Homo sapiens: one gene and its partners. The protein of the gene in region 3 purifies or fractionates together with the protein of the main gene of each other region. This does not show direct contact. Each region holds a gene or a part of one and is shown on either strand. Other genes may lie near its edges. The genes, in order: REXO4, DDX50, OASL and DHX57.

Evidence for each region.
Region 1: the proteins of OASL (region 3) and REXO4 purify together in Homo sapiens (co-immunoprecipitation; 2 studies listed by BioGRID and IntAct, with this or other methods). This does not show direct contact.
Region 2: the proteins of OASL (region 3) and DDX50 purify together in Homo sapiens (affinity purification with mass spectrometry; 2 studies listed by BioGRID and IntAct, with this or other methods). This does not show direct contact.
Region 4: the proteins of OASL (region 3) and DHX57 purify together in Homo sapiens (affinity purification with mass spectrometry; 2 studies listed by BioGRID and IntAct, with this or other methods). This does not show direct contact.

Annotation. Positions count from the first base shown.
Region 1 is NC_000009.12:133,413,931-133,421,861, reverse strand, and holds the start of REXO4 (RNA exonuclease 4), read left to right. Parts: upstream 1-3,851; 5' UTR 3,852-4,017; coding exon 4,018-4,242; exon of another isoform or gene 4,243-6,200; intron 6,201-6,850; coding exon 6,851-7,197; intron 7,198-7,217; exon of another isoform or gene 7,218-7,525; intron 7,526-7,931.
Region 2 is NC_000010.11:68,932,315-68,939,314, reverse strand, and holds part of DDX50 (ATP-dependent RNA helicase DDX50), read right to left. Parts: intron 5,117-7,000; coding exon 4,955-5,116; intron 4,517-4,954; coding exon 4,397-4,516; intron 3,310-4,396; coding exon 3,236-3,309; intron 2,380-3,235; coding exon 2,220-2,379; intron 1-2,219. UniProt on the Homo sapiens protein: ATP-dependent RNA helicase that may play a role in various aspects of RNA metabolism including pre-mRNA splicing or ribosomal RNA production.
Region 3 is NC_000012.12:121,021,828-121,029,907, reverse strand, and holds part of OASL (2'-5'-oligoadenylate synthase-like protein), read left to right. Parts: intron 1-2,090; coding exon 2,091-2,332; intron 2,333-5,770; coding exon 5,771-5,918; intron 5,919-8,080.
Region 4 is NC_000002.12:38,851,263-38,859,342, reverse strand, and holds part of DHX57 (putative ATP-dependent RNA helicase DHX57), read left to right. Parts: intron 1-506; coding exon 507-682; intron 683-2,881; coding exon 2,882-3,003; intron 3,004-4,090; coding exon 4,091-4,286; intron 4,287-5,164; coding exon 5,165-5,289; intron 5,290-5,377; exon of another isoform or gene 5,378-5,462; intron 5,463-8,080. UniProt on the Homo sapiens protein: Probable ATP-binding RNA helicase.

The DNA of each region.
Region 1 (7,931 bases), on a different chromosome or scaffold from region 3:
CTCCAAACCACTCTTTTACACCCACAGAGCCGCACAAGCTGATGACCAGCAGGGGGATTCACCTTGTCTTTCCACCCCTCAAAGTGCAGCCTCTCTCCTCCTCTGCGATCAGGGAGGACACACCTACACTTCCTGCCAGGCCCTGGCTCTGGATCCCTTCCCAGCTCTCTCCTCCTGCATCGTTAGTTTCTGCCCCTCTGCTAGAGCCATTCATTCATTCCTTCAGCCAACAAATGTTTCACTGAGCCCCTGAAACAGGCCAGGCTCTGTGCTAGACACCAGGAAAGCAGCCCCAAGCCAGGCAGACAGCAGCCTCGGCCTCTCACAGCTTAAATTCTAGGGAAGAGAGCCAGACAGCAAAGTTGCTAGACAGACACATGTTGTATATGTAGTATGTTCAAAGGTGGTAAGTGTTATGGAGAAAAATACAGCAGAATAAAGGAATGGGGGACTGGAGGGAAGGGTGTGCTTTCATGCAGGAAGGTAAGGAGGCTGTTGGAGAAGGGGGCATGCTTAGATATCGAGATCCTGGTACCTGGCTCACTCCATCAGCATGAATGACTCTCCTGTCTCTTTTTGGTTTTTGTTTGTTTTTTGAGACAGAGTCTTGCTGTGTCACCCAGGCTGGAGTGCAGTGGCACGATCTCGGCTCACTGCAACCTCCGCCACCCAGGTTCAAGTGATTCTCCTGCCTCAGCCTCCCTTGTGGCTGGGATTACAGGCACCCGCCATCACGCCTGGCTAGTTTTTGTATTTTTAGTAGAGGTGGGGTTTCGCCATGTTGGCCAAGCTGGTCTCAAACTCCTGACCTCAGGTGAGCTGACTGCCTCGGCCTCCCAAAGTGCTGGGATTACAGGCATGAGCCACCAAGCCCAGACACTCTGGTGTCTCTTGATTACAATCAACAACCTTCCCTTGACCCACACTGTCCTCCTGCCATAGCCCTGTTTCTGGCTGTCTTTAAGAACTTAGAAACATTATTTTCAGTGGCTATCTCCACTTCCTTGCCTTCAATTCCCACATACCATTGAAATTGATCTTTAAAAGGTCACCAATAACTTTGTGAACCCTGAAAGAGCCAATCCTTCTTGATGGATCCCAAGTTACTAACTGGGCCTAAATTCAAAGTAGGACCTAGCAGCCATTTGCTGACTAGGGTCACACACACATTCTGCGTTCCTGGAAAGCCCCCACTCTCACTTAACTCTGGGATGGTTTCACAGCTATCTGTTCCTGTTTATGCCGCCAGAATCAACCCATCGACTGTGACCTGCATCGACCAATCTGAACTCAGCAAGTATTAACCAATCAGAACTAAGCAAGTGTGCCTTCCTCATTTGCATAAGTGGACCAAAGTGGGAACCTGGGCAGGAAGTTCTCTACAAAAGACGACCTCTTTCTTTGTTCTCTTTGTTCCCTGGAATGCACCTTTGTACAGAAGGCTGCATTGCCCTGGTTTACAAACTGCTGGAACAAAGTTTTTTTCCTTTTTTAAAAAGAAAACCTGGGCCAGGTGTGGTGGCTCACGCCTTTAATCCCAGCACTTTGGGAGGCCGAGGCAGGTGGATCACGAGGCACGCGGATCATGAGGTCAGGAGTTCGAGATCAGCCTGGCCAGCATAGTGAAACCCCGTCTCTTTTCAAAAATACAAAAATTAGGCTAGGTGCGGTGGCTCACGCCTGTAATCCCAACACTTTGGGAGGCTGAGGCGAGAGGATCACCTGATGTCTGGAGATCCATACCAGCCTGGCCAACATGGAGAAACCCCATCTCTACTAAAAGTACAAAATTAGCCGGGCGTGGTGGCACATGCCTGTAATCCCAGCTACTCGGGAGGCTGAGGCAGAAGAATCACTTGAACCCGGGAGGTGGAGGTTGCGGTGAGCCGAGATTGCGCCATTGCACTCCAGCCTGGGCGACAAGAGCATAACTTCGTCTCAAAAAAAAAAAAAAAATTAGCTGGGCATGGTGGCGTGCACCTGTAGTTCCAGCTACCCAGGAGGCTGAGGCAGGAGAATCGCTTGAACCCGGGAGGTGGAGATTGTGGTGAGCCGATATCACGCCACTGCACTCCAGCCTGGGCAGCAGAGCAAGACTCCGTCTCAAAACAAACAAAAAAAAAGAAAACCCTTTTCGGTGGACTTGCTGACAATCTCAGTGCCATATCTGGTTCCCATCTCTCTGTCCTCGTCCTTCTCAGCCTCTCAGCAGCATCTGATGTGGTTTATTCTCCCCCTGGATTCTCTGATGCCACTCACATCCGCTTCTCCTCCCACTGCACTGACTGCTCCCCCTCAGCCTCCTCTGCTGCTTCGCCCCTGGAGAGCCCCCAGCACCTGCTATCTGGTCTTAACCCTTCACTCCCTATATTGGTACTCTCTCTTTGGATGAACTAACCCAGGTTCATGTTTCAACACTAATTATGTGCTGACGATTTCCAAATTACATCTCCAGCACTGACCCTTCCCTAAGCTTAGGAATCTTATATCCTGCTGCTGATTAGACGTCTCTCCTTGGTGACTGACGGCCCGTTCAAACTCAGCAAGTGTGAAAAGGAGCTCATGGCTCCACCCCCATACTTCACCCTGCTCCCCGCAGACATTTATTGAGATGATAAATGGCCACACCCAATTGCTCAGACCAAAATCCTAGGAGCCTCACTTCCCTGTTACTCCATCAACCTCTGCCTGTTACACACGCACATCAAATCTACCCACTCCCGGCCGGGCACGGTGGCTCACACCTGTAATCCCAGCGCTTTGGGAGGCCGAGGCGGATGGATCACTGGAGGTCAGGAGTTCAAGACAGCCTGGCCAACGTGGCGAAACCCCAGGTCTACTAAAAATACAAAAATTGGCAGAGAGTGGTGGCGTGCACCTATAGTCCCAGCTACTCAGGAGGCTGAGGCAGGAGAATCGCTTGAACCCAGGCGGCAGAAGTAAGGGAGGAGACCACCCCTCATATTGTCTTATGCCCAATTTCTGCTTCCAAATAAAGAAGTAAAAACTAAAAGGCAGAAATAAAATCCACAGGCAGACAGCCCGGCGCCGCGCCCTGGGCCTGGTTAAAGATCAATCCTTGACCTAACCGGTTATGTTATCTATAGATTTCAGACATTGTATGGAAAAGCATTGTGAAAATCCCTGTCCTGTTCTGTTGCGTTCTGATTACCGGTGCATGCAGCCCCCAGTCACGTACCCCCTGCTTGCTCAATCGATCACGACCCTCTCACACAGACCCCCTTAGGGTTGTAAGCCCTTAAAAGGGACAGGAATTGCTCACTCAGAGAGCTCGGTTTTTGGAGACGTGAGTCTGCCGATGCTCCCCACTAAATAAAGCCCTTTCCTTCTACAATTCGGTGTCTGAGGGGTTCTTGTCTGCGGCTCGTCCTGCTACAGAGTGAACTGGCAGGAACTCCTCCCGGTGCCTGGGCCTCAGTTTCCCCACTGTACGTGGAAGATGAGCCGCTGTGAGGCTGAGCAAGGAGCAGCCCAAGGCGGGAAAGGCTCGAGAGTCCAGGACGCAGGCGAGCGACCTAGCCCGGCTCTCACTAGCCCCACCGCCCAGTGCCCCCAGCTCAGCTGCCCTACCAGGTGCTACACACACAGCGGCCCCCCAGTTCCCTTCCGGCGTTCGCATCTCTCATCCCCATCCCGGATCTTGGGGAGGTCCTCGGCTTGCCCCAGTCAAACTCGAGGTCGATGACCCCGGATGCCGCTGGCTAAGGCGGCGGCCCAAGTCCCGTGCGGGTGAACCGCCCAGGCTGCGCGGAACCAGAGGCAGGGATCCGGTTTCCAGCCGGTTGTGGAGAGACGAGCGCTTCCGGGGACTGGAGCGTGCGTGCTGAGGTATGCGCAACGCGTGCGGGGTCTCTTCCGGAGTCTTTTCCTGGACGGGGTCCCTGCGGTGGGTGTGTTTCGGCCTGGCCTGGGCAGGCGCTTGTGCTGCCAGGGCGCCGGGCCCGGGGAGGCCGGGGTCTCGGGTGGCCGCCGGCCCAGGCGCTGGACGGCAGCAGGATGGGGAAGGCGAAGGTCCCCGCCTCCAAGCGCGCCCCGAGCAGCCCCGTGGCTAAGCCGGGTCCTGTCAAGACGCTCACTCGGAAGAAAAACAAGAAGAAAAAAAGGTTTTGGAAAAGCAAGGCGCGGGAAGTAAGCAAGAAGCCAGCAAGCGGCCCCGGTGCTGTGGTGCGACCTCCAAAGGCACCAGAAGACTTTTCTCAAAACTGGAAGGCGCTGCAAGAGGTGAGGCTTGAGGGGGCCCGGGCGGAGCGCTGCGCAGCTCATTCCCGCAGAACGCGACGGAGGGAAAGACTTGGGTAGCCCCAAAAGACCTGTAAAGGCAGATTTGAATCGAAATCTTGTAAACAGCTTTTCACAAGAAAGGTGGCCTGTTGAGGGAGGTCTCGAACTTGTTTGCTTGAAAGAAATTGATGAAAGAATTATTTCAAGTACAAAAAAGCAAAGATAAACCCTTGTACCTTTTGCATAATGAACTAACTAGAATGGATTTTACAAAGAGAAATTTAGCTTAAAATCCCGAAACCAGGCCGGGCGCGGGGCCTCACGCCTGTGATCCCAGCACTTTGGGAGGCCGAGGCGGGCAGATCCCCTGAGGTCAAGAGTTCAAGACCAGCCCGGCCAACATGGTGAAACCCCGTGTCTACTAAAAAAGTACAAAAAATATTAGCCGGGCGTGATGGCGCGCGCCGGTAGTCGCAGCTACTCGGGGAGCCTGAGGCAGAAGAATCGCTTGAACCCGGGAGGCAGAGGCAGTAGTAAGCCGAAATCGCGCCACTGCACTCCAGCCTGGGCGACAGAGCGAGACTCCATCTCAAACAACAACAACGAAAGAACACACTGGTCTGTGTAGCAAGACAGGGAGAAAGAAGATTCCTGTGTAGAAGTGAAAAGCAGATAGCAGACATGTGATGGGGTTCTAGCGACACTTACGGTCTTGAAGTAAATACTAATTGAGCTCCTAAAAATGTGCACTCTGCCATGTGCTCTATGCCATGCGTGTTGCAATCCCCACAATAAGACTGTGAGGTGGACACTTCCATCATCGCTATTGTACAGATGAGGAAATAGGCTGGAAAAGTTTAAATAGATCATCTAAGATTGCGGCTGGGAACCAGGTGGCTGACTCTGGAGTCCATGCTTTTAAGGCTGTGTTGTACCTGCTGTCTCCCTAGTGACCTGCACTTCTGTAGAGGTTGCCTGCTCTCTCCTAGACACTCTTCCACGTGCGTCACTCATACATTCTTACCACATCCCTTGGAGCTCCCTTGGAGCTACCTCCTGTTAGGATCATAGCTCACTGCTGCCTGGGCTCCAGTGATTCTCCTGCCTCAGCCTCCCGAGTAGCCCACACGTGTAATCCCAGCACTTTGGGAGGCCCAGGCAGGAGGATCACTTGAGCTCAGGAGTTCAAGTCCAGCCTGGGCAACATGGTGAGATTCCATCTCTAAATAAAAGTAAAAAGTAGTTTTTTTAAAAAAGAAATGTGATCCCCAGTGGTGGAGATGGGGCCCATAGGAGGTATTGGGTCATGGGGGTAGATCCCTCATGAATGACTTGGTGCCCTCCCCTCAGTAACGAGTAAGTTCTCACTCTGCTGGTTCATTTGAGAGCTGGTTGTTTAAAAAGAGCCTAGCACCTTTTTTGCTTGCTCTCTCACCACGCAACACACCTGCTCCCCCTTCACCTTACACCATGATGGGAAGCTTCCTTCGGCCTCACCAGAAGCAGATGCTGGCACCATGCTTCTTGTACAACCTGCAAAACCATGAGCTACATAAACGTTTTTTCTTTATAAATTACCAAACACAGGTATTCCTTTATAGCAGTGCACAATGAACTAATACAGATGGGGTTTCACTTTGTTGCCCAGGCTGGTCTTCAACTCCTGACCTCAAGCAATCCTCCCACCTCAGCCTCCCCGAGCGCTTCTTGAACCTCCTAATACTCTGCACAGTATCTCAGTGCAGACATTCCTGTCTTAACACACAGGACCAGTCAAATTCCCGTGGGCAGCCCCAGGGTTCTGTGGGATTTCTTGAACACCAACTCTTCTTCCTTCTCCCAAGAAAGAAAAGCAAAATAAGTGAATGGAAGGGATGTGTGCTATAGGGAAACTTTGGAGTGTTTTCTAATTCATCCAAGAAAGTCAGCCCTTCAGTTCTTTACCTATCACAGAACAGGTAAGTAGCACCCGCCTCATCATCGCACTGTGGTGGCGCCCACTCCCACTGGGGATTTGAACACAGGGAGGAAGCTGGGCTCTAAGACTACAGGAGCCTCTGCTTGGGTGACAGCCAAGGTGTGTGGCTGCTAGCAGTTCTTCAGCCACTCCAGTTTGACAGAAGCTTTTCTTTTCATTTATGACACCCCCCACCTTCCTGAGATCTTCACAGCAGTAGCAAACCAGGGAATCTTGTAAAAAAAAAAAAAGCGATTTCTGTGTAGCAGGATGTTGGCCCAAGCTGTGAGGGAAGTTAACTCCAAAATTCTTTCTAGATAAGCTGAAAAGGGAAGTGGTCTGTGGTGTCCAGCCACTCAACAGGTACCCAAGGTGTAGAATGAGTTTGACATTTTGTATGCATGAAGGAGCAGGTGCAAAATGCATTATAATAAGATAAGCAAAGAAACAGCATTTCACCACAAGTGACCCATGAGAATGAAAAAGAGCTTTTTCCAAACCGTTTGAAAATGAATTTCAGTGATGCGGATGGGAATTGTATAGATGTGTTTGGTGTATATGTGTGTATATACATACACACGTAAGTTTTTTCAATCTGCTGTGTGTAATTTCCAAATTCAAATGCAGCATGTATTTTATTTTGGGTCCCAGTGGCTGCTGAAACAAAAATCTCAGGCCCCAGAAAAGCCTCTTGTCATCTCTCAGATGGGTTCCAAAAAGAAGCCCAAAATTATCCAGCAAAACAAAAAAGAGACCTCGCCTCAAGTGAAGGGAGAGGAGATGCCGGCAGGAAAAGACCAGGAGGCCAGCAGGGGCTCTGTTCCTTCAGGTTCCAAGATGGACAGGAGGGCGCCAGTACCTCGCACCAAGGCCAGTGGAACAGAGCACAATAAGAAAGGAACCAAGGAAAGGACAAATGGTGATATTGTTCCAGAACGAGGGGACATCGAGCATAAGAAGCGGAAAGCTAAGGAGGCAGCCCCAGCCCCACCCACCGAGTAAGTATGGGCCACCTCACCACTGAGAACCGAGGCACAGCGACTTCACCAAGGCCTGTCTCCTTATGGAGGCTGGTGGCCTCACCGCAGTCTCTCCATCACTTTACCCTGATGTCGTCTGTTCCTTTGTTTACTCGCTGTTACTTGTTTTCCCCTAGAGTGTGCGCATGATAAGGCAGGGCCTGCTTCTTCCGAGCGTTGAGCAGAGCTCAGCATTTAGTGGGTGCCAGTACACGTGTGTGGAAGGAAAGCGTGCTGAAGCCAGAAAGACCCAAGTATGAGGCCTGTCCCTGCTTCTCGCCAGTTGGGTGGTTTGGGGCAAGTTTCTGACGTCCTCTGTGCCTTGTGGTAGTCATGGTGGCATCATAAGGAGATTGTGAGGTTGGCACTCTTGGCTCAGTGCCTGGTGATTACTTCAACCCTGTGATGGAGCCAGGTGTGGTGGCTGTTGCCTGTGATCCCAGCTCCTTGGGAGGCCAAGGTGGGAGGATCACTTGATCCCAGGAGGTTGAGGCTGCAGTGAGCTGTGATTGCACTACTGCCTCCAGCCTGGGTGACGGAGCAAGACTCTCAAAAAAACAAGTGAAAAGAATAAACCCTGTGCTGGCCACCCACGTGGGGTGGACCGGGAGTCAGTGGCCTTCTCTGAATGGTTCAGCTGGAGGTGACGTGTTCATAAGTTACAGCTGGCTTCATGTTGCCTGGGTGTTCAGGACACAGTCGCTGATGGCTGA
Region 2 (7,000 bases), on a different chromosome or scaffold from region 3:
TCTCAATATTTTCTAAAGAAATATGTTTTAAATACTGTCTTAAGCATTTGGTGGGTTACTAGGGATAGGATATCTGCTCAATGCTAAAGTATCACCCCACAAGTTACTAATTACAGAGAGTAAAATACACCTTTACAATATGGCAGTTTCCATCTTAAACAAATGCAAATTAAGCATTACTAGTACTGGAACAACCTAACATTTTATGCCTCTTGATGTGATGCAATATGAGGTACATATTAACTATAAAGTACCCTTGCCAAAAACATTTCACCTAAATATAAAAGTCAAGCTTTGATATTACTTTCAGTTTAAAAGAGGATAAAGGCAAAAGTTAAATGATGCTTGAAGAGATTCGGACAAATCCAGACAGTGAGATATTCTACCAAACAACCGACCAAGACTCTTCACCAAATCAATATCAGAAAAAAATTAAAAAGATGAGAAAACAGTTCCAGACTAAAAGAGACTAAAGAGACATAATACCAAATGTAACATGTAAAACTTAACTAGGTCCTGAATTTTTAAAAACATACATACAAATAGGTATATGTACACATATGGATAAACGGAATGGAGCCCAATAAGTCACTCAAAGCAAAATGACATTTAGCTAAACTATTAACACCTACCAGGTAGAAACCATCAGATACCCCAGCAGCATTCATTTGTGCTACACCAAATAAGTCACATCCAAGTGAACCTGCCCTGCCCTTTTTGTTTCCTCCTCCCCATCACAGGGATGTGCTGCCCAAATTAGTCTGTTTTGTTATTATTTGAAAATCCCACCAGCAGGCTCTAGTCTTATAGATGTCTCCAGGACCAGGTTCGCTCACTCACTCTCTCCACTCAGACATAACAGAACTCTTATTTAAAATTCTCTTCACCAAGAAACTCCCCTCACTTATACTTGAATAAGTAAAAAATCTCTGAGCTACCTGCACCAATGGTTCTGGTGTGGTATGTTTTGACATGTGATACGAATCTGGCAGCAGGCCAGTTCAGATGGTGTTACACTTACACAACCCCTCCACACACACACAGGCATTTCTTACTTACTTTGCATGCTACTGTGTTAATTGTGCAGAGTCTATTTCTTACTTTGCAGGATTCCATGGAAACTTACAAAATGAAATGTAGGTTCTGGGATACAAGTTTCAGTTAACAAAGGTCTGTGCAAAGTGAGCATTTCCTATATTTCTCTCCAAATACCCAGACAGACAGACATTTTCAGGATAATGAGAAAAAAATGGATATAAACTAAATATTAGATGATGATACAGAACTATCATTAATTTTCACAGATGAGCTTATTATATTGTGGTTATGTAGCAGAATATCCTTATTCTCAGAGGATGCATGTTGAAATATTTAGGGATGATATCACGGTGTTTCGACTTACTTTCAAATGATTTAGAAAAAAAATACAGGCCGGGTGAGGTGGCTCACGCCTGTAATCCCAGCACTTTGGGAGGCTGAGGAGGGCAGATCACCTGAGGTCAGGAGTTTGAGACCAGCCTGACCAATATGGTGAAACCCTGTCTCTACTAAAAATACAAAAATTAGCCAGGCATGGTGGCGTGCGCCTGTAGTCCCAGCTACTCAGGAGGGTGAGACAGGAGAATTGCTTGAACCCGGGAGGGAGAGGTTGCAGTGAACCAAGATCACGTAATTGCACTCCAGCCTGGGTAACAGAACAAGACTCAATCTCAAAAAAAAAAAAAAAAAAACTTATAAAGTTATAAAGCAAGAAGGAAGATATTGAATGGTTCCTAAAACAAAGAAATGATAAATGTTTAGACGATGGATACGCTAATGATCCTGATCTGATACCTATACATGGTATGTACGGATGTACTGAAACATCACCACATACCCTATAAATATGTACAATTATTACATGTCATTTTTTTTTTAATTACAAATTAGAGCTAAAAAAGGATATAAAGCACATGATACAGACTTTTAACAGTTGAATCTAGGTGGATCGTATGTGGTTACTGCATTATTCTTTCAGTTTTTCTGTGGGTTTGAAAAATTTGGAAGAGGTGATTGTCAAAAAAGGATTTATTAGGGAGTAGAGGAAAATAAGGAGACCAGTTTCTCATAGAGCAAAACAGTTTTTTTCTGCACAAAAAGCACAATAATTCACTACAATATTTCCTATGTTCAATTTTAACCTTTTCCCACTCATGTACAATTTTCTCACAGATTTCTACCTTATCAGAGGTGATCAAAGATCGTGGTTCAAAGCTTGATGCACCAGAAATGTGGGCTAAAGCTGCAGCCAATGCATCCACTGCACCTTTCTCTTCTATCAGTCTCTGAGCTGATGGTCGGAAAAAATCAACAGCAGCGTAAGAAACGGAAGCCAGAGACCTATGGTTTAAAAATAGTATTCTTGGTCAAGACATAGGGAAAAAATAAAAGATAAGAAGAAAAATGGGAAAAAGAAGGAGTAATTTTTTTTTTTTGAGATAGAGCCTTGCTCTGTCACCCAGTCTGGAGCGCACTGGCACGATCTTGGCTCACTGCAGCCTCAACCTCCCGGGCTCAAGCAATCCTCCCACCTCAGCCTTCCAAGTAGCTGGGACTACAGGTGCACGCGCCACCACTCCTGGCTAATCTTTGTATTTTTTGTAGAGACAAGGTTTCGCCATGTTGGCCAAGCTAGTCTCAAACTCCTAAGCTCAAGCAATCTGCCCACCTCAGCCTCCCGAAGTGCTGGAATTACAGGCGTGCACCACAGTGCCCAGCCACATTTTATATATATATATATATATATATATATATATATATTTTTTTTTTTTTTTTTTTTTTTTTTTTGAGACAGAGTCTTGCTCTGTCGCCCAGGCTGGAATGCAGTGGTGCACTCTCGATTCCCTGCAAGCTCCGCCCCCCAGGTTCACACCATTCTCCTGCTCCAGCCTCCCAAGTAGCTGGGACTACAGGCGCCCACCACCACGCCTGGCTAATTTTTTGTATTTTTTTAGTAGAGATAGGGTTTCACCGTGTTAGCCAGGATGGTCTCAATCTCCTGACCTCATGAGCTGCCCGCCTCAGCCTCCCAAAGTGCTGGAATTACAGGCATGAGCCACTGTTTTATATTTTAATATAACTAAATGTCTGCTGGTAAAACTGGTGGTAAAATTTTCTGCTATTTGAACTGGGAGAGCTTACAGATGAATAGCCTAATACAAAAGAAACAATTATTCAGCAAGTTCAGAAAGCATACCTGATGGCATCCATGCTTTTAGATTTAACTAAATCCATTGTAGAAGGAACACCTACACGTTTAAAAGTAATTCCCTGAAAATGAAAGAGTTACATTAAAGAAAAATGGAAGTCTTTACAATTAATTCCTAAATTAATATTTTAATAGTTCGTTGAATTTCTATTTCTTGCATTTAAAGATTTCATAGCCCTAGCAGATTAAAAGATCAGTTTTATCTTTTTTGTTTTTGTTTTTGTTTTTGTTTTGACACAGAGTCTTGCTCTGTTGCCCAGGCTGGAGTGCAGTGGCGTGATCTTGGCTCACTGCAACCTCCACCTCCTGGGCTCAAGCAATTCTCCTGCCTCAGCCTCCATAGTAGCTGGGATTACAGGTGTCTACCACCATGCCCAGCTAATTTTGGTATTTTTAGTAGAGATGGGGTTTCACCATGTTGGGCAGGCTGGTCTCAAACTCCTGACCTCAAGTGATCTGCCCATCTCCGCCTCCCAAAGTGCTGGGATTACAGGCGTGAGTGACTGCACCCAGCCAAGATCTTTTTTTTCTCATAAATCATCAATTACAAATTTCAGAAAGAGAAAAATAATTTTTTGAATTGCCCCTTAGTTACAATCATGGAATTTCACTTGTAAAACAAGCCTGATTTGAAAAAAAAACAAAACAAAACAGATGTTTAAATCTATCAGCTTTTTTCCTTATTACACTATCTCATTTTACAAAGTATATGAAATTGCATATAAAAACACATATAAAAATAGGAAAAAATGTGAAATACCACAAAAAATCCAGACCACAGAAAATGTACAGTTTCTTTAGAAACTGTCTATTGTACCATACTTAAAAGAATCTTAACTATTATACCAAGACAATCTTTTAGTCACCCATTTACACTAAGAAGTACTGAAATCACAATGCACTTCTGATTTTAGTATGAAGAGAGAAATTCAAGGAAAAGATGAGAAAGTCAGCTCCACTGTCTTCACAATAAAAGCTGTATTAAAGTCTTGAAGCTAATATAAATTTAGATCTCCACAGGCTTCACAGCCAAATGCAGCTTAAACTGAGAAAAGTTATGAAGACCTACTTGTAAGAATAAATATAAGAAGAGCTCTCTTTTAAGGCACCATTTAGACAATAAGCCTGAAATAATTTAACTCTACTTACTGCTTTTTGTTCCACATATCTTAGTTGACCTCTTTCTCTTGGTTGATAAAAACATATACAAATCCCTGTCCGTCCAGCTCTACCTGTGCGTCCAGAGCGATGGATATAGGACTCAACATCCTAAAGATTATAAAAGGTAATATTTTTTAAAAATCTAGCAAGTTGCAGTCATTCCGGAATCCAAATAATAATGTTAATAATAATATATTTATTTCAATCCTGTTGCCCTTTTCAACATTCCAAACAATTTATATGTGTGGATTTTGGGGTAAAGGCAATATGATTTAAAACCTTTTAATCCACCTCATCCCAGGTTTCTTTATGGCAACTTTTTGTAATTCTCTGCCTGATTTTGTTGCTCCATGCTTCAAATACAAACAATAGAGTTAATCATCTGCAAAAGTATCAGAATCTGATAAATTTAATAGCACACTAACAAAAAATGGCTAAGAGCAAGAAGAGATGACATATTTTTCACATCCCAAGCAATATGTTGTAAATTAAATGGGAATTTATAAAATTGCTCTTATTTTTCCCAAATCAAATCCCATTTCCTACCTGAGGAGGAGAACTTTGAATCACCAGGTCAACTTCAGGAATGTCCAAACCACGGGCAGCCACATTGGTTGCCACCAAAACTTTAAAACTACCTTCTCTGAAGCCTTTTAGTGTAATTTCTCTTTGTGACTGTGCAATGTCCCCATGTAAACACTGGGCATTCTATTTGAGAAAGGGGGAGAAAATTAAGTGTACAGCTCATACTTGCAACTGATAGCACAACAACATCTAGTCTGTGCTCCTTTTGCATGTTTTTAAATCTTACTTTGATGATTTTAACAATGCATGCTTACTGTAAAAAAAAAAAGTCAAACATGACAGAAAATATTTAACATAAAATGTAAAAGCTTCCCTAATACTAGTGACTTAGAAATAATTCACTGCTAAGAGTTTGGTAAATATTCTGTCAGATTTTTTTTTTTTTTTAGACAGAGTTTTGCTCTTATTGCCCAGGCTGGAGTGCAATGGAGCGATCTTGGCTCACTGCAACCTCTACCTCCCAGGTTCAAGCGATTCTCCTACCTCAGCCTCCCGAGTAGCTGGGATTACAGGTGCCTGCCACTATGCCCAGCTAATTTTTGTATTTTTAGTAGAAACAGGGTTTCACCATGTTGATCAGGCTGGTCTTGAACTCGCTGACCTCAGGTGATCCGCCAGCCTCTGCCTCCCAAAGTGCTGGGATTACAGGCGTGAGCCACCACACCCGGCCACTTTTTTTTTTTAATACACACATACTCACATTACACTAGCATATACTATGACTTTATGTATTTATTTATAACGTGGATATTACATAGGTAGGGTTTTGTAACCTACTTGATAAATTTAGTGTATCTTAGCTATCCACATCTATAGATAAAATGCTACTTAATTTTTTTAAACTGTATATAATTTATTCATATGGATGCACCAGCATCTATTTTAGCAATATCCTACTGATGAACTTTTGGGCTGTATTCACATTTTCACCTTTAGAAACAATGCTGCAATGGGCCGGGCATGGTGGCTCACACCTGTAATCCCAGCACTCTGGGAGGCCGAGACAGGCAGATCACCCGAGGTCAGGAGTTTGAGACCAGCCTGGCCAACATGGTGAAACTCTGTCTCTACTAAAAATACAAAAAATTAGCTAGGCGCAGTGACAGGCACCTGTAATTCCAGCTACTTGGGAGGCTGAGACAGGAGAATAGCTTGAACCCGGGAGGTGGAGGTTGCAGTGAGCTGAGATCGTGCCATTGCACTCCAGCCTGGGGGACAAGAGTGAAGCTTCATCTCAAAAAAAAAAAAAACAAACAAACAAACAATGTTGCAATGAACAACTTTGTAACTTTGTACTTGTATCTCTGGATGCCTCAGTATCTGTATATTTCAGTAGGATACATATCTAGAAGTTGAATTTCTGGGTCAAAAATTATGAACATGTAGCATTTTAACAGAAACTGTATTATTTAAAAAACTGTATTATAAAAAAAGTTGTGTACCTTTTATTCTTCAATACTCTATGAGTATTTATTTCAACATACCCTACCCAGCTTGTGTATATTATAAATCATTGTAATCTTTGTGAATTTAATAGGCAAAAATAATTTCCCAATGTTGTTTTAATTTACATGTCTGTAATTTTTAGTGACACTGAACCTATTTATATTAGGTAGATCTTCATCTCTGCTGCATTAGTGACACTGAACCTATTTATATTAGGTAGATCTTCATCTCTGCTGCAAATTTCCTGGTATTATAAATACACTTCCTAGTATTCCTGGCCACTATATTAAAGTCAAAAAGTTCATAACAATGATCAGGCCAGGCTCAGTGGCTCATGCCTGTAATCCCAGCACTTTGGGAGGCTGACGTGGGTGGATCACTTGAAGTCAGGAGTTCAAGACCAGCCTGGCCAACATGGTGAAACCTCATCTCTACTAAAAATACAAAGATTAGCCAGGTATGGTGGTGCATGCCTGTAATCCCAGCTACTCGAGAGGTTAAGGCAGGAGAATCATTTGAACCCAGGAGGTAAAAGTTGCAGTGAGCCGTAATCGCTCCACT
Region 3 (8,080 bases):
TACATCTTACAGATTACAGGCATCCTACATTTTATATATCATCTAAGTTTTAAGAATGTAACATTTCACTAATATTGAAGAAAATAAGTTATATTACCATGAGTTTAAATTTCTAACAAAATTATAATGTTATTAGTTATGGTTTACAAAATTGAGTGTTAAGGATGAATTTGCAAAAAGTTACAAAACAAATTAATTAACTTATAATTTTTTTTTTTTTGAGACAGAGTCTTGCTCTGTCGCCCAGGCTGGAATGCAGTGGCGCAATCTCAGCTCACTGCAAGCTCCGCCTCCCGGGTTCATGCCATTCTCCTGCCTCAACCTCCCGAGTAGCTGGGACTACAGGTGCCCGCCACCATGCACAGCTAATTTTTTATATTTTTAGTAGAGACGGGGTTTCACCGTGTTAGCCAGGATGGTCTCGATCTCCTGACCTTGTGATCCACCTGCCTTGGCCTCCCAAAGTGCTGGGATTACAGGCGTGAGCCACTGAGCCCAGCCTTATAAATACATTTTAATTCAAAATTGAATTTCTAAGGTCAAGGATAAAGTTTTTTTGTTAGTAAGTCAGTGACCTATAGGAAAGGCCCAAGGTTTCATTTATTTGGGAGATGAGAATTATACAAGATGATTCTGTGTTTGTTTCAAGGCCAAAGTGTTATAGCTTTTTTTTTTCTCCTCTGACTTTGGGATGGGAGCTAATATTCATATATGATGGCCATAGGAAAATATGTCAGTTTTACTTCCACAAATCAAACTACTGAATATTTGACCAAAATTTTTCACTTTCTGGCTAAATATCAATGTATCAGTGAAATTCTTTTTTTTTTTTTTTTTTTTTTTCTGAGACAAGTTCTCACTCTTGCCCAGGCTGGAGTGCAGTGGCATGATCTTGGTTCACTGCAACCTCCTCCTCCTGGGTTCAAGCGATTCTCCCGCCTCAGCCTCCCAAGTAGCTGGGATTACAGGCACCTGCCACCACACCTGGCTAATTTTTGTATTTTTAGTAGAGACGGGGTTTCACCATGTTGGCCAAGCTGGTCTCGAACTCCTGGCCTCAAGTGATCCACCCGCCTCGGCCTCCCAAGGTGCTGGGATTACGGGCGGGAGGCACTGCGCCCGGCCTCAGTGAGATTCTTAACACAGGAAGTGACCACTGTCAGTTAAGATGCTTCCTTTTGCAAGTAAGAGAAAAACACAAAAACCAACTCAAACTGGCTTAAACAATAAAGGGAATTATCAGCTTATGTAGGAAAACCCCTAAACAGTAGGGGGGGCGGGCGGGGGGGGCGGGTTTCAGGCACTGGTGAGGGCACTGGCTCTGTTTCTCTGGAATTCTCTCAGCTTCTCATTCCTCTATATGTCAGCTTGGTCCTTTGGCTTGTTTCCCTCTTGGTGGCAAAATGGCCACAACTATTCCTGCCCTCATATTCACACATGGGAGGACTTCTCTTCTTTCAACCACTGAACAAAAGAACTAGGCTTTACTCTAGTTGAGCCAACTTAGATCGCATGCCTTCTCTTGAAGCAATCACTTGCAAGGGGGAAAGGTTTATGCTGATAGGACTGTGCCAGTCAGGGCCCATCCTGGAGCTGCGGGTGGGGGTCAACCCCTTCCAAACATCATGGCTACTATGCAATGGGGAAGGAAAGAATGTCTGCTAGAGAGGCAACCCCAATCTTCACTACAGAATCTCACCTATTACCATTTTTTCCCTCTATCTAAGGAAACCTTTCCTTTCTTTTAAGAAACATTTCTCAGCAGCTCAATACATTAAAATAGATTTAAATGGGACTGCTTAGGCTAGAATGTTTGTGACCGAGCGCAATCTGCTCATACCTGTTCATAAGTTCATTCCAGGAGTTACATCTGTTGAGCATATATTGAAGCCCAATGGACTAACTCAGCCCTTTAATTCTAAAATGGTGAAACCTATGTCTAGAGATGGAATGTGACATGGCCAAGGTCACACAGCCAGTAGGCAGCAGAGCCAGGACTAGAACTTGGATTTCTCAGCTTCTGGTCCAACGCCATCCTTACACAGAATCTTAGGGTCTCTCTCTCTCTGTCTTCCCATCTCTTTCAACAGTATGTGAAAGCCAGGTCCCCCAGAGCCAATCTGCCCCCTCTCTATGCTCTTGAACTTCTAACCATCTATGCCTGGGAAATGGGTACTGAAGAAGACGAGAATTTCATGTTGGACGAAGGCTTCACCACTGTGATGGACCTGCTCCTGGAGTATGAAGTCATCTGTATCTACTGGACCAAGTACTACACACTCCACAATGCAATCATTGAGGATTGTGTCAGAAAACAGCTCAAAAAAGAGAGGTACTGGACCACTGTTTGCCCACCAAATCTTACAGAAAAAAAGAGAGACGGGCTAGTGTAACGTGGCATAGAGTTTTATGGATTGGCTGTATTAAGCAGTAAGGCTGCCACCATAGTTGAGCATCGACCTCCCACACCAACACAGCTGGCATCTCAAGTTGGTGGCTTATCAAAGTCACTGGGGGGCCATGGGGCGGGTAGAAGCCTGTTCCTTGTTTCCTAAGCCACCCTCCACCTTAGCTTGGCCTTCTTGCTCTCTGAAGACCATTTCAGTGCTTTGTAGGAGCTAGCATGGGAAAATGGAAAGAATCTTGGAGACTCAAGTTTAAATCCCAGCTCAGCCATTTTCCTACTGCTATGAGCCTCAATCCCTTATCCATAAGACAGGAGTAAACTGGAACCTACGACATAGGATTGATGTAAGGGTTGGAGAAAATCTGTGTTAAGGATCCACAATATCTAGCATCTGGCAGATGCTGAGTAAATGCTTATATTGGAGCATGTGCTGTCAGCGTCCCATTCATATCCTCTCGGCCTTTACCGTTCTAGGGAAGGTTGGTTCCACTTCCAGCTGTCAGCACCTGCATCCCTTTGCCAGCAGACCCACTCTGAGAAGAGCCCTCCACCAGATCTGGTGGGAGTTGGTGGATAAATACCACAGCTCCCTCACCCAAAAGATGGAAGGAATCTGGGTCTCATTGCGTAACTTTTTTTTTTTTTTTTTAAGACAGAGTTTTGCTCTGTCACCCAGGGTGGAGTGCAGTGGCGCAATCTCCACTCATTGCAACCTCTGCCTCCTGGGTTCGAGTGATTCCCCTCCCTCAGGCTTCTGAGTAGCTGAGATTACAGGCGCCTACAACCCACACCCAGCTGATTTTTGTATTTTTGTAGAGACAGTGCTTTGCCATGTTGGCCAGGCTGGTCTCAAACTCCTGACCTCAGGTGATGCGCCTGCCTTGGCCTCCCAAAGTACTGGGCTTACAGGCGTGAGCCACCGCACTGGGCCCCATTCCATACTCTTTCCTAAAGATCGCCTCCAGTGGACCACAGTAGTAATTACTTCAATACCCACTCTTTGTTGTCTGCCTTCCCTTATCTGTCTCACTGTCTCACTCCCTTATTTGTGCTTCCTGGGATCACTTTCCAAATAAGCCAAATCCTTATCTGGGGATCTGCTTCAGGGGAAGCCCAACCCAGACAACTCTCTGTGTTAGAAGCTCTGGGCCTGTGTAAGCAACATCACAGTATTTAGTGTTCTGTTATGTAGTATTGGGTCTCTTTTGTAAGGAAGAAAAGCCAGGTCTGCTCATGAAAAGAGGATTTATTATAACCATGGCCAGAAAAATCGAGAAAGCATCAGGACCTGAGACTCCCTCTCTCTCTCTGTCACTCTCTCTCATGAACTACAGCACTTTTCCCCTCAGCCTCTGCTTCTCTCTCCACACCTGTCCGGCTCCCCTCTGCCTCCCAGGTATAAGGGATCTCCATCATCCCCATGTCCAAACCCCAGAGAGAACCAGTCTGATTCCTGGTCACGGGACACAGACCCCATGTGTTGGGTCACCTGCCAGCCAACAGAATGAGCCACTTTAGATCAGTGACCCCACCCCATAGGACAGCCTGGCACTTTCAGGCAGGACTGTTTTAGGGAGCAGTCAGGGTTGGGAGGAGCCAGCCTGGAGCCCAAAGTCCAGTTCATTCCAGTAGCCTGTGTCACATTCGATTACACAGATGAAGTCGCAGCTCCCTCCCAAGCCCTGGAGTACAAAGGGCTGGGTTTTTTTTGTTTGTTTTTGGGTTTTGTTTTTTTTTTTTTAATGGAGTCTTGCTCTGTCACCTAGGCTGGAGTTCAGTGGCACGATCTTGGCTCACTGCAACCACCACCTCCTGGGTTCAAGCTATCCTCCCACCTCAGCCACCCAAGTAACTGGGACTACAGGCGCCTGCCGCCATGCCCTAATTTTTGTATTTTTAGTAGAGACACGGTTTCACCATGTTGGCCAGCCTGGTCTTGAACTCCTGACCTCAAGTGATCTGCCCACCTCGGCCCCACAAAATGCTGGGATTATAGGCGTGAGCCACTGCGCCCCACTCAAAGAGCTGGTGTTAATCATGGACTTGCAGTCACCCCAAGTTAATAAGCAAGCCCAAGATCCCCTTCAAGCCAATATTCTTTAAAATATTTATTCAATATTTATAGAAAGGAGAGACTTTTGGGGGCAGCCCAACCTCTGCTCTGTTGAGGAGGTAGATGGGTAAGAGCCCCCATCTACTGGCTGTAAGAACTTAGGGCAATCTAGGCCGGGCACCGGTGGCTCATGCCTGTAATCCCAGCACTTTGGGAGGCCAAGGCAGGTGGATCACGAGGTCAGGAGTTCAAGACCAGCCTGGCCAAGATGGTGAAACCCCATCTCTACTAAAAATACAAAAATTAGCTGGGCGTGGTGGCGGGTACCTGTAATCCCAGCTACTCAGGAGGCCGAGGCAGAGAATTGGCTGAACCCGGGAGGTGGAAGTTGCAGTGAGCCGAGATTGCACCACTGCCCTTCAGCCTGGGCGACAGAGCGAGACTCTGTCTCAAAAAAAAAAAAAAAAAAAAAAAAAGGAACTTAGGGAGGTCTGTAAAAAGGGGACAACCACAACAATAAACAATAAAAATAACAGTCCCTACCTTATAGAATTGCTGTAAGATTAAAATAGGTTAATCTGCATAGGATTTGGCCTTGTGCTTCAATAAATGTCAGTAGTTGGTGGCAGTGGTGTTTCTACTATCCAAAGTAATTCAGCAGCTCTAACCTTAAACTTAAACTTGCAAAACCTGCTCCGAAGGTACAGGGCCCCCCCTGCCTGAAAGGGCATCTGTTATTACTCCAGCATGCCTCTTGGGGCCTCATTCTCCCCCTAAATTCCTTGCAAACACTTAAGGCACTATCCCAAAGAAGAAGAATTTTTTTTTTTTTGAGACAGTCTCACTCGGTCACCCAGGCTGGAGGGTGGTGGCATGATCTTGGCTCACTGCAACCTCCACCTCCTGGGTTCAAGCAATGCTCCTGCCTCAGCCTTCTGAGTAACTGGGATGACAGGTGCGTACCACCACACCTGGCTAATTTTTTGTATTTTTAGTAGAGACAGGGTTTCACCACGTTGGCCAGGCTGGTCTTGAACTCCTGACCTCAAGTGATCCTCCCGCCTCAGCCTCCCAAAGTGCTGGGATTACAGGCGTGAGCCACTGTGCCTGGCCCAGATAGGAATTCTTGGAAATAGCATTGTCTCCATCCTGTTACTCTCCTGCGGTGTTTTGGGGCCCTCTTGAACATCCCCGGGATGTGGATATCACAATTCTCAGTGGCTGGACGAAATAATTGCCGAGAAGGTTTTTTTCTGGCTTGAAGGCCTTCAAACCATTATGAGCCTGGGCACCCTTTTCCTGTGTTACAGGCCCATCATCCTGGATCCGGCCGACCCCACCCTCAACGTGGCAGAAGGGTACAGATGGGACATCGTTGCTCAGAGGGCCTCCCAGTGCCTGAAACAGGACTGTTGCTATGACAACAGGGAGAACCCCATCTCCAGCTGGAACGTGAAGGTAATGGCTCCTCTCTGGGCTGTCAAGGGCTTGAAGGTCAGAACGACAGATAAACTACTCAGTATTTACTCATTCAGTTCTGTGTTGATGGAGAACAGAACTTTAGAGTCACCGTTTAAGGGCCAGCTGCACCACCCATGGGCTCCGTGAACTTGGACAAATTCTTTGGCTCTCAGAGCCTTGGGTTTCTTACCTTCAAATTCTTGTTCTCCTTTCCTTTCTTTTTCCCATAATTTACTGGAGAATCAGTTCTGTGTTCCTGATCATTCTTTGCGTGAGTTGGGTCCAGCCAAGTCAGCTCAATCAGCCATTCTGTGCCAGTGCTGTTCTCAGGGATGGGGTAGGGGATGTGGGCTGGGGGACAACACAGGCACAGAAATAAGACATGACCACGACGCTCGGCCAGGTGCGGTGGTTCACGCCTGTAATCCCAGCACTTTGGGAGGCCAAGACAGGTGGATCACTTGAGGTCAGGAGTTCAAGACCAGCCCGGCCAACATGGAAAAAACCCATCTCTACTAAAAAAATACAAAATTAGGCGGGCGTGGTGGCAGGTGCCTATAATCCCTGCTACTCCGGAGGCAGAGGCAGGTGAATCGCTTGAACCCGGGAGCTGGGGGCTGCAGTGAGCTGAGATCGTGCCATTGCACTCCAGCCTGGACAGCAAGAGGGAAACTCTGCCTCAAAAAAAAAAGAAAAAAAGAAAAAAAAAAGACACCACCCTCACTCTCAGAGAACTCACCCTATGTTGTCAGGAAGCAAATCCATGAAACAAACTTACACAAAACTGCTAGAATTACCAGAGAAGACAAGATACTCTGAAAACAAACAAACAAACAAAAAATACTAAGTCATATTATTATATGATGCCAAACCTATAGTATAGGCAGAGATCACAAAAATCTATTTTATTAACATCACACTTTCTAGTGTGCAAAGCTCTTGTCCAAGGTCTGTCTCAGTTGATCCTCATAAGCAATTCTGTAAAGTAAGAAGGTCGAGTGTTATCACTATCTTTATTATTATTATCATCATTACTATTATTGCCATTTTACAGAAGAGAAAACTGAGGCTCAGAGAGGTTAATTAACTAAGGGCACTCTGCTAAGAGGCAGCAGAACCAGGGGCTCTGGGGGTCTGGAAGCAGAATAAATGTTAACTGAAGTCACCAGAGAAGATTCCTTTAAAAAGTTAGGAGTTGAAATGAGCCCTAAAGGCCGGGGGGAGATATAGACACTCAGAACAGAGGACAAAGGATGATGAGGGGTAAAGGATGGGAGGCTGGGATGAGCAAGATGTGTACAGGACAGGAGACTGAACTGCTTGGAGCAGAAGGCAGAAGCAGAATCAGAGGCTCCAGTAAGGTACATAGAGTATAAACGGGGGGACCCGCTGGCCAAATGAGGAGGCCCACCCATGGGCTGGAAAATATACGCCTCTGGATTTTTCCTGAATATAAAAGCCATTGTAGGCTGGGGGCAGTGGCGCACGCCTGTAATCACAGCACTTTGAGGGGCTGAGGCGGGTGGATCCCTTGAGCCCAACAGTTCAAGACCAGCCTAGGCAACATGGTGAAACCCCGTCTCTACTAAAAATACAAAACTTGGCCAGGTGCGGTGGCTCACATCTGTAATCCCAGCACTTTGGGAGGCCGAGGTGGGCAGATCACGAGGTCAAGAGATCGAAACCATCCTGGCCAACATGGTAAAACCTCATCTCTACTAAAAATACAAAAATTAGCTGGGTGTGGTGGCATGTGCCTGTAGTCCCAGCTACTAGGGAGGCTGAGGCAGGAGAATCGCTTGAACCTGGGAGGCGGAGGTTGCAGTGAGCCAAGATCGTGCCACTGCACTCTAGCCTGGCAACAGAGTGAGATTCCATCTGAAAAAAAAAAAAAAAAAAAAGAACAAAACTTAGCCAGATGTGGTGGCACGCACCTGTGGTCCCAGCTACTCAGGAAACTGAGGCGGGAGGATCGCTTCAGCTTGGGAGGTCAAGGCGCAGTGAGTTAAGATTGCACCACTGCACTGCAGCCTGAGGTGACAGGGCAAGGCCCTGTCTCAAAAAACAAAACAAACACACACAACATTGTGCAAATATTTTTTATCTTGGCTAGTCAGAAAACTTGGCAATGCCAGGCTTATATTTCTTTTTCTTTTTCT
Region 4 (8,080 bases), on a different chromosome or scaffold from region 3:
CTATCTCTATGGATTTGCCTACTCTGGACATTTCATAGAAATGGAATTACACAATATGCAGCTTTTTGAGATGGGCTTCTTTCACTTAGCTAATGTGTTCAAGGTTCATCCGTGTTCTAGCACATATCACTACATCATTCCTTTTTATTAGTGAATAATATTCTATTATGTGGACATACCACATTTTGTTCATTGATTCATCATTTGATAGATATTTGTGTTGTTTTACGTTGTGGGATTTGGGGACACTTGCGTACAGTTGAAACATTCACTGCTAATTCTTTTAATGCTAATTACTTTGTTTGTGCTTGATAAAAGTTTATTTGAGGATGCATTTTAAGTTCTTTAGAAATAGAAATACTAGAAATGAATGAACTTACTTTATTCAAGTTTTCACTTTTTCTCCATTTTGACTTTTTGTTGTTGATACTCTGTTAGACAGCGACTTTCCCCTTTTGTTAAAGAAAGGGCTCCATACTGAAATGTTTTCTTTTATTTCCTTCAAGTTGAAAAAGCATCAGAATCTGAGGAGTCAGATGAGGATGACGGTCCTGCACCTGTTATAGTAGAGAATGAAAGCTATGTGAACCTTAAGAAAAAGATTTCCAAAAGATATGACTGGCAGGCAAAGTCAGTACATGCTGAAAATGGTAAAATCTGCAAGCAGTTCCGAATGAAACAGGTAGGGTATGCTGAGAGAATGAGTAACGTTGCCTCCCTAATATCTGGATGATGGGATTAGGAATTAGGGAGCTTTGGCTACCCTCCTTAAAATTCTTCTGGTTCTTTTTCTCCCTGAGTGGTCAAAGTTTCTACAGGCCACAGCAAACTTAAGTGCATATGCTAGATGGTTTTGGAAAATCCTATAGCTGGTACATAGCAAACACACACATATATGCCAAATAGTCTCAGAGTCATGTGCCTTTGGTACTGTGACAGACAATCTGGTATGTAAAAGGAATATCAATACTGTGGTTTACTGGCCGGGCACGGTGGCTCACACCTGTAATCCCAGCACTTTGGGATGCCAAGGTAGGCAGATCACCTGAGGTCAGGAGTTCAAGACCACCCTAGCCAACATGGCAAAACCCTGTCTCTACTAAAAATACAAAAATTAGCCGGGCGTGGTGGCAGGTGCCTGTAATCCCAGCCACTTGGGAGGCTGAGGCACAAGAATTGCTTGAACTTTGGTGGTGCAGGTTCCAGTGAGCCATGATTGCACCACTGTACTCCAGCCTGGGCAACAGAGCAAGACTCTGTCTCAAAAACAAAACAAAACAAAATAAAAACAAATACTGTGGTTTAGAGCCAGGCGGGCGTGGTAACACATGCCTGTAGTCTCAGCTACTTGGAAGGCTGAGGCAGGAGGATCACTTGAGACAATGCCAGCCTGGAAAACATAATGAGTCCCTGTCTCTAAAAACAAAACAAAACAAATACTGCGATTTACCTTAGAAAAAATTAATATATAAAAGGAGAAGGATAAGGAAGGACTTTTACCCTGTTTCAAAGACTCAAAGGATAAATAATGTGCCCAAGATCGCATAGCTAGTAAGTGGTTTAGCCAATTCTGTTTCTAAAGTCCATTTTGTTTTTACCCCATTCACATGAAGATTATTTTAAAAGAATTCATAAGTGAATCCTGAGGGCAAAGTTAGAGATAGGACAGAGGCAAGTTGCTTAACCAATATGGGAATTGGATTAAATGCTCTCTAGGCCCTCCAGTTCTAAAGTTCTGTGAGTCTGATTTTTGACACCATGTAACACCATCACATATGTAGTACAATACCCAAAGAACATCACAATGTATATAAATTGCACTGTAGGTAAGATGATAGAAACAAAAAATTAGATATTCAATTTGATCAGTGTGATAAGTTTATGATAAAATTATATGTAGGAAATAGCAAGTTCCTGTAAATTTATTACAGTATTCAAAAGTATAGCCAGAGTTTTAACAAACAAGGCAATTTTTATAGCATTGGCCATTAAATATGAAATTGATTTATATAGTTGTAGTGACTGCCCAAAAATAACCCTTTAGTGAGTGCTTTTCTATTATTGATTTAGGTAAAAATCTGATATTGCTTAGAGCTACGCTGTCTGATATGGTAGCCCCTACCCATGTTTGGCTGTTTATATTAATTAATTAAAATTAAAAATTCAGTTCCTCAGTAACACTATTCTTCACATTTCAGGTGCTCAATAGCCACATGTAGCCAGGTGTTGCTGTATTGGACAGCACAGGTATAGAACATTTCCATCAACACGGAAAGTTCTATTGGACAGTACTGGTATAGAGACTCTTGTTGGGAAGAACTGGATATGTGCTAAGCAAGAGGGCTTTATTTCACCCAGAAAATCTTTCGGTTTATTCAGATGTTGGAAAACTAATGTACAGATTCCACAACTCATTCTGGCTGATTCTCTGAGCAGCATTCTGAATAAAGTCTTCTACATCCAATCCCAACAAATCCAACAAAGGATCACTCAAGGCCAGGAGTGCAAGACCATCCAGGGCAACATAACAAGACTCTGTCTCTATAATTAAAAAAAAAAAAAAGCTGTAATCCCAGCACTTTGGGAGACCAAGGCAGGTGGATTCTTGAGCACAGGAGTTTGAGGCCAGCCTGGGCAACATGGTGAAGTCCTGTCTCTACAAAAAAATACAAAAAGCCGGGTATAGTGGCACACACCTGTAGTCCCAGCTACTTGGGAGCTTGAGGCGGGAGGATCGCTAGAGCCTGGGAAGTGCAGATTGGAGTGAGCCGTGATCGCACCACTGCACTCCAGCCTGGCAACAGAGTGAGACCCTGTCTCAAAAAAAAAAAAAAAAAAAGAAAAAGTAACCCAACTGATATCTTATCTTTGATTTTATTAGGCTTCCAGACAGTTCCAGTCCATTCTGCAAGAGAGGCAATCACTCCCTGCTTGGGAAGAAAGAGAAACCATTCTTAACTTATTGCGTAAGCACCAGGTGGTTGTCATAAGTGGTATGACTGGGTAAGAATGCAGTTTATTCATCTGTAGCTTTCATCTATAAATATTATATGCACCCTGGTTACCATAACCAGTTGAACTTGTTAAAAACTGTAGCTGGATTTATAGATATTATATACATCTGCCTTGAGACATAAGGCAAAAAAATCCAGCTGAAGACTTTTAACAAGGCTCATGTTTAAATTTAAAGGATAGTTCTAGAACATTTAGCTTGAGAGCTTTTTATCTTCTGAATTTATTCTGATTTCCTGTCACGCAGGCTGGAGTGCAGTGGCATGATCTCGGCTCACTGCAACCTTTGCCTCCTGGGTTCAAGTGATTCTCATGCCTCAGCCATCCGAGTAGCTGAGATGACAGGCGCACCACTGTGGTGCACCACCATACCCAACTAATTTTTGTGTGTTTTTAGTAGAGAGGGGTGTTTTACCATGTTGGCCAGGCTGGTCTCGAACTCCTGGCCTCAAGTGATCCGCCTGCCTCGGTCTCCCAAAGTGCTGGGATTACAGGTGTGAGTCACCACACCCAGCCTTTATTTTTCTTTTAAAAACAACTTAATTATGGTGCGTTATTTTTCCTGCTTTACATTCTCCTATTTAGCAGGGACAAATTGCAGACTTCATTTATTTATTCAAGAGTATACAATTTAATAATTATATTTGTGTCCAGACTCAGTGATATGGTAATAATTCGTACCTTCTAGTTTATCTTTTTAACCTCAGCCTAATCATAGCTAAATTAATACCTATAAAATATTTTGATAATCATAAGCTAATACTCCTTTTCTTTGGGGTTCATGTGTAGAGTTTACGTTCCTAGAAGCATTTACAGACCTTAATTTAATGTCTGTTCAATAGTCCCAATTTTACAAATGTTACTAAACTATTATTTGATTGTCCTTTTGATTGGAGTGCAAATTCCTAGAATTTCCCACCTCTTGGTAATAAGTCAGGAGGTTGTTTTAGAAAATACCTGAAACTGAACAACTTTTATTCTAATTAGCTTTATCACTTTTCTCATTCCATATGATTGCTTCTTTAGTTAACTAGCCCTTGAAAACTTCATTTTAGGACTTATTTGTTTTAATGTACAGATGTGGGAAAACCACACAAATTCCGCAGTTTATTCTGGATGATTCTCTGAATGGACCACCTGAGAAGGTAGCCAACATCATCTGTACCCAACCCCGACGAATCTCTGCAATCTCTGTTGCTGAACGCGTTGCTAAAGAAAGAGCAGAGAGGGTGGGTCTGACCGTGGGATACCAGATTCGGTTAGAAAGTGTCAAGGTTTGTATGCTCTGCTTATTTCCTGGTAACAGAAATTTATGGTTTTTAGGTATAAAAAGTTTTGGGGGTTAGGAGATTCATGGGCAATTTGGGATATATACTTTCAGGTTATTTTTAAATTAATGATTACCTTTGGTAATCATTTATTTAAATATTTAGAAATATTTAGAAATATTTTGGTATAAGAACTCTTATGGCCAGGCGCGGTGGCTCACACCTGTAATCCCAGCACTTTGAGAGGCCAAGGCAGGTGGATCACCTGAGGTCGGGAGTTCGAGACCAGCCTGACCAACATGGAGAAACCCCATCTCTACTAAAAATACAAAAATTAGCCAAGTGTGGTGGCACACGCCTGTAATCCCAGCTACTCGGGAGTCTGAGGCAGGAGAATCCCTTGAACCTGGGAGACGGAAGTTGCAATGAGCCGAGATTGCGCCATTGCACTCCAGCCTGGGCAAAAAGAGCAAAATTCTGTCTCAAAAAAAAAAAAAAAAAAAAAACTCTTATTTGGTTGTACTAAATTTCCTCTGTAAAGCTTTTTATTTTTTATTGGCAGAAGTCATCTAGTAAAGACTGTTTTGCTCTTGAACTTGGGACATAATCCATTTAACCAAATAAGGAGCAGACAGATTGAGAACTGTTTTCATTATTCACTGTTTTTTAATGCTTTTTATGAAAATCTTAACATTGTGATATGAAGTAGAAAGGCTTTTATTACTGTCCCTGGCAAGAAACTATGTTTAGTATGGTTTCCTATTAAATGGAACTGCTGGTGTTTCCAATATTTTTTATCACTATCCATTCAAAATGGCTTTCCAGTAATGTTTCCTTTTTTTGAAAATTTTATTAATGATTTATATTGCCCTTTCATGTGTAAGTCCTCAGCCACCAGACTGTTATACTGCACCACGGGAGTGCTGCTGAGAAGGCTAGAAGGAGATACAGCTCTACAAGGAGTTTCCCATATCATTGTTGATGAAGTTCATGAGAGGACAGAAGAAAGGTAAAACAAAGACTTTCCCAGGGAACACACACTCACCTGAATTGAAGGCATGGCAGAAAAAATTGTTTTCTAGTTCCAATTCAGTTTCATGCAGCTAGTAATGGTAATTTGCCACAAGGAAGGCCTATGTTAGAGAAGAGCAACTGCTTTCTTGATCTCCAGGGTCTGTAACACTAAAAAGGACAGCACATGCTCATCACTTATTAGATGGAGTCATCCTGTTAGGTTAGAAGGTATACTTCACACCATCCTGGGCATTATGCTAAGTTGAATACCGTACTTAGTAGAAATAACAGATGTCATGCATGCTGTGGCTGAATGTATCTTCTTCCTTGTTTATTTGGCCATTCAGTCCTGACATTGATTCATGTATTTATTGAGCCTGCATTAAATGCCAAGTGATATATTAGTTGCTGGGGATACAGTGATGAACAAGCATGTATGGCTCCCCCTCATCTCTTACAGTCCAGTAGAAAAAACAAATAATGAACAAGTAAACAAGCAAATGATTGTAAATTGGAATAAGCACTATGAAGGAATAAACGGCATGCTGTGTTTGGAGGGAGAGACCCATAGATGCTCAAAGATCATATCTCTGTAAGATGACAATTTAAATTCAAAACTGAAGTATGGCCGGGCGCAATGGCTCACACCCATAATCCCTGCACTTTGGGAGGCCAAGGTGGGAGGATCGCTTGAGCTCAGGAGTTGGAGCCCCACCTGGGCAACATAGTGAGACCATGTTTCCACGAAAAGTAAAAAAAACAAAACAAAACAAAAAATAGCCAGTAGTCATTCTACTGGGGATACAGAAAAAAAAAAAAAAAAATTAGCCAGGCGTGATGCCTCACACCTAAGGTCCCAGCTACTCAGGAGGCTGAGGCAGGAGAATCAATTGAGCCCCCAGGAGGTTGAGGCTGCAGTGAGCTGTGATAGCACCACTGCACTCCACCCTGGTCAAGAAAGCAAGACCCTGTCTCAAAAGAAAAGAAAAGAAAAGAAAAGAAAACTGAAATATGAGAAGGAATCCCAGGTGACAAACGGGGGTAAGGAAAGTATGTTTGAAGATTTTGCAGTGGGAAGGGGCTTTGTGAGTCCAGAAACAAGGAAGCCCAGTGCACCTGCTGTGTAGCAGCAAAGGGGAAAGTAGCACAGGGAAGAAGCAGCAGGAGCCAGACCTTCCAGGGCCTTAAGCACCACGAATAATAAAGCATGTGGATTTTATCTTATGAAATTAGAAGTCATTAAAGGGTGAGGCATAAAATAAAAATTCTTGCCAGACACAGTGGTGCATGCTTGTAGTTCCAGCTACTGAGGAGGCTGAGGCAGGAGGATTGCTTAAGTTCAGGAGTGCAAGGCTGTGGTGTGCTATGATTGCACCTGTGAAGAGCCACTTCAGCCTGGGAAATATCATGAGACTCCATCTCTAAAAAAAAAAAAAAAAAAAATTAAAAGTCTGAATATTTTAAGTACTGAGGAGGGCCAGGAAGATGGATGGCATTAATCATAGTTTGTCATGTGGATCATGCCCTAGAGCAGTAAAAGAAAACTAGTGGGAAAAAAGAGAAAGTCCTGTGAAAATTATGAAGTTTTCCCACAAAGTATTGTACCACAATAAATATCTTGAGAAGAAGAAAAAAAGTCTAAGTAAACTTGGTGGACTGATAGGAAAGCAGAAAATAGCTAAAAGCAAAACATTAAAAAAAAAAAAAAAAAAGGATTGGTGGCAGGCGCCTGTAGTCCCAGCTACTCGGGAGGCTGAGGCAGGAGAATCGCTTGAACCTGGGAGGCGGAGGTTGCCGTGAGCCGAGATTGCGCCACTGTACTCCAGGCTGGGCGACAGAGCAAGAAAAAAAAAAAAGGAATTGAACAGAGAAGGCATATAACCAGAAGAACTATTAGAAGAAATAATACATTACTATTATTAGTAAATAAGAAATATGAAGTAATTAGAAACTAAAGAAAGACTTTTAGATAAAAAGAATGAACCAAAAGAAAAAGAAATAATTCCTAGAACAAGACAATAATAAATATTAAATTACTATACAGAAAACATTGGAAATCTCTAAGGGGCAAATAATCTTTTTGTAGAAACTCCAGAAAACAATGGGAAAAAAAATTAATGGTAAATAATGTCATTTTGCCACTGTTGGAAATGAACATCTGAAAGAAGAAATTTTTTTAACAAAATCATTGAACAACTTGGAAGAGGAAGCCAAATAAAACATTCTCTCAGATTAATGGTATTTAAATGATTGATTTATAAAGATAAGTTTAAACTTTTAGGGAAACCTATATCCAGTATAATTTTGAATATGAAGAGTAGCTTTGGATTCTATAACATTTGTACTTCCACAAACTTGAAGAAATGAGAACATAGCACTGGATTTGGTTCCTGGCTAAAATAGGAGAAAGATTTTTATAAAACCTAAGGATCTGTAGAATATGAACGTTAAAAATTCAAAAGATGTTCACATCTGAATAAAGATTAATTACACAGTGGAGAAGGGTGCTTCAAATATTTACAAATACCAGTTTACAAGAAAGGGTATACAAATTACAAGGAAAAGTAGGGGAATATTTGCTAACTCTGACTGAAAAAAGCAAAAACTAATAAAATCTAGGAACAAAAATCAGTAAAAATATTGGCAAGATTAAAGGTTGAATATAGAAAGGTGACAGTTGTGTTAGTTTGAAATTTTAATAAATTTTCTAATCACAGAGATGACATGATCATTCTAAGGCATACAGTAAATACCAAAAAATGTAAAAGAAGAATCTCTGTCCCTTA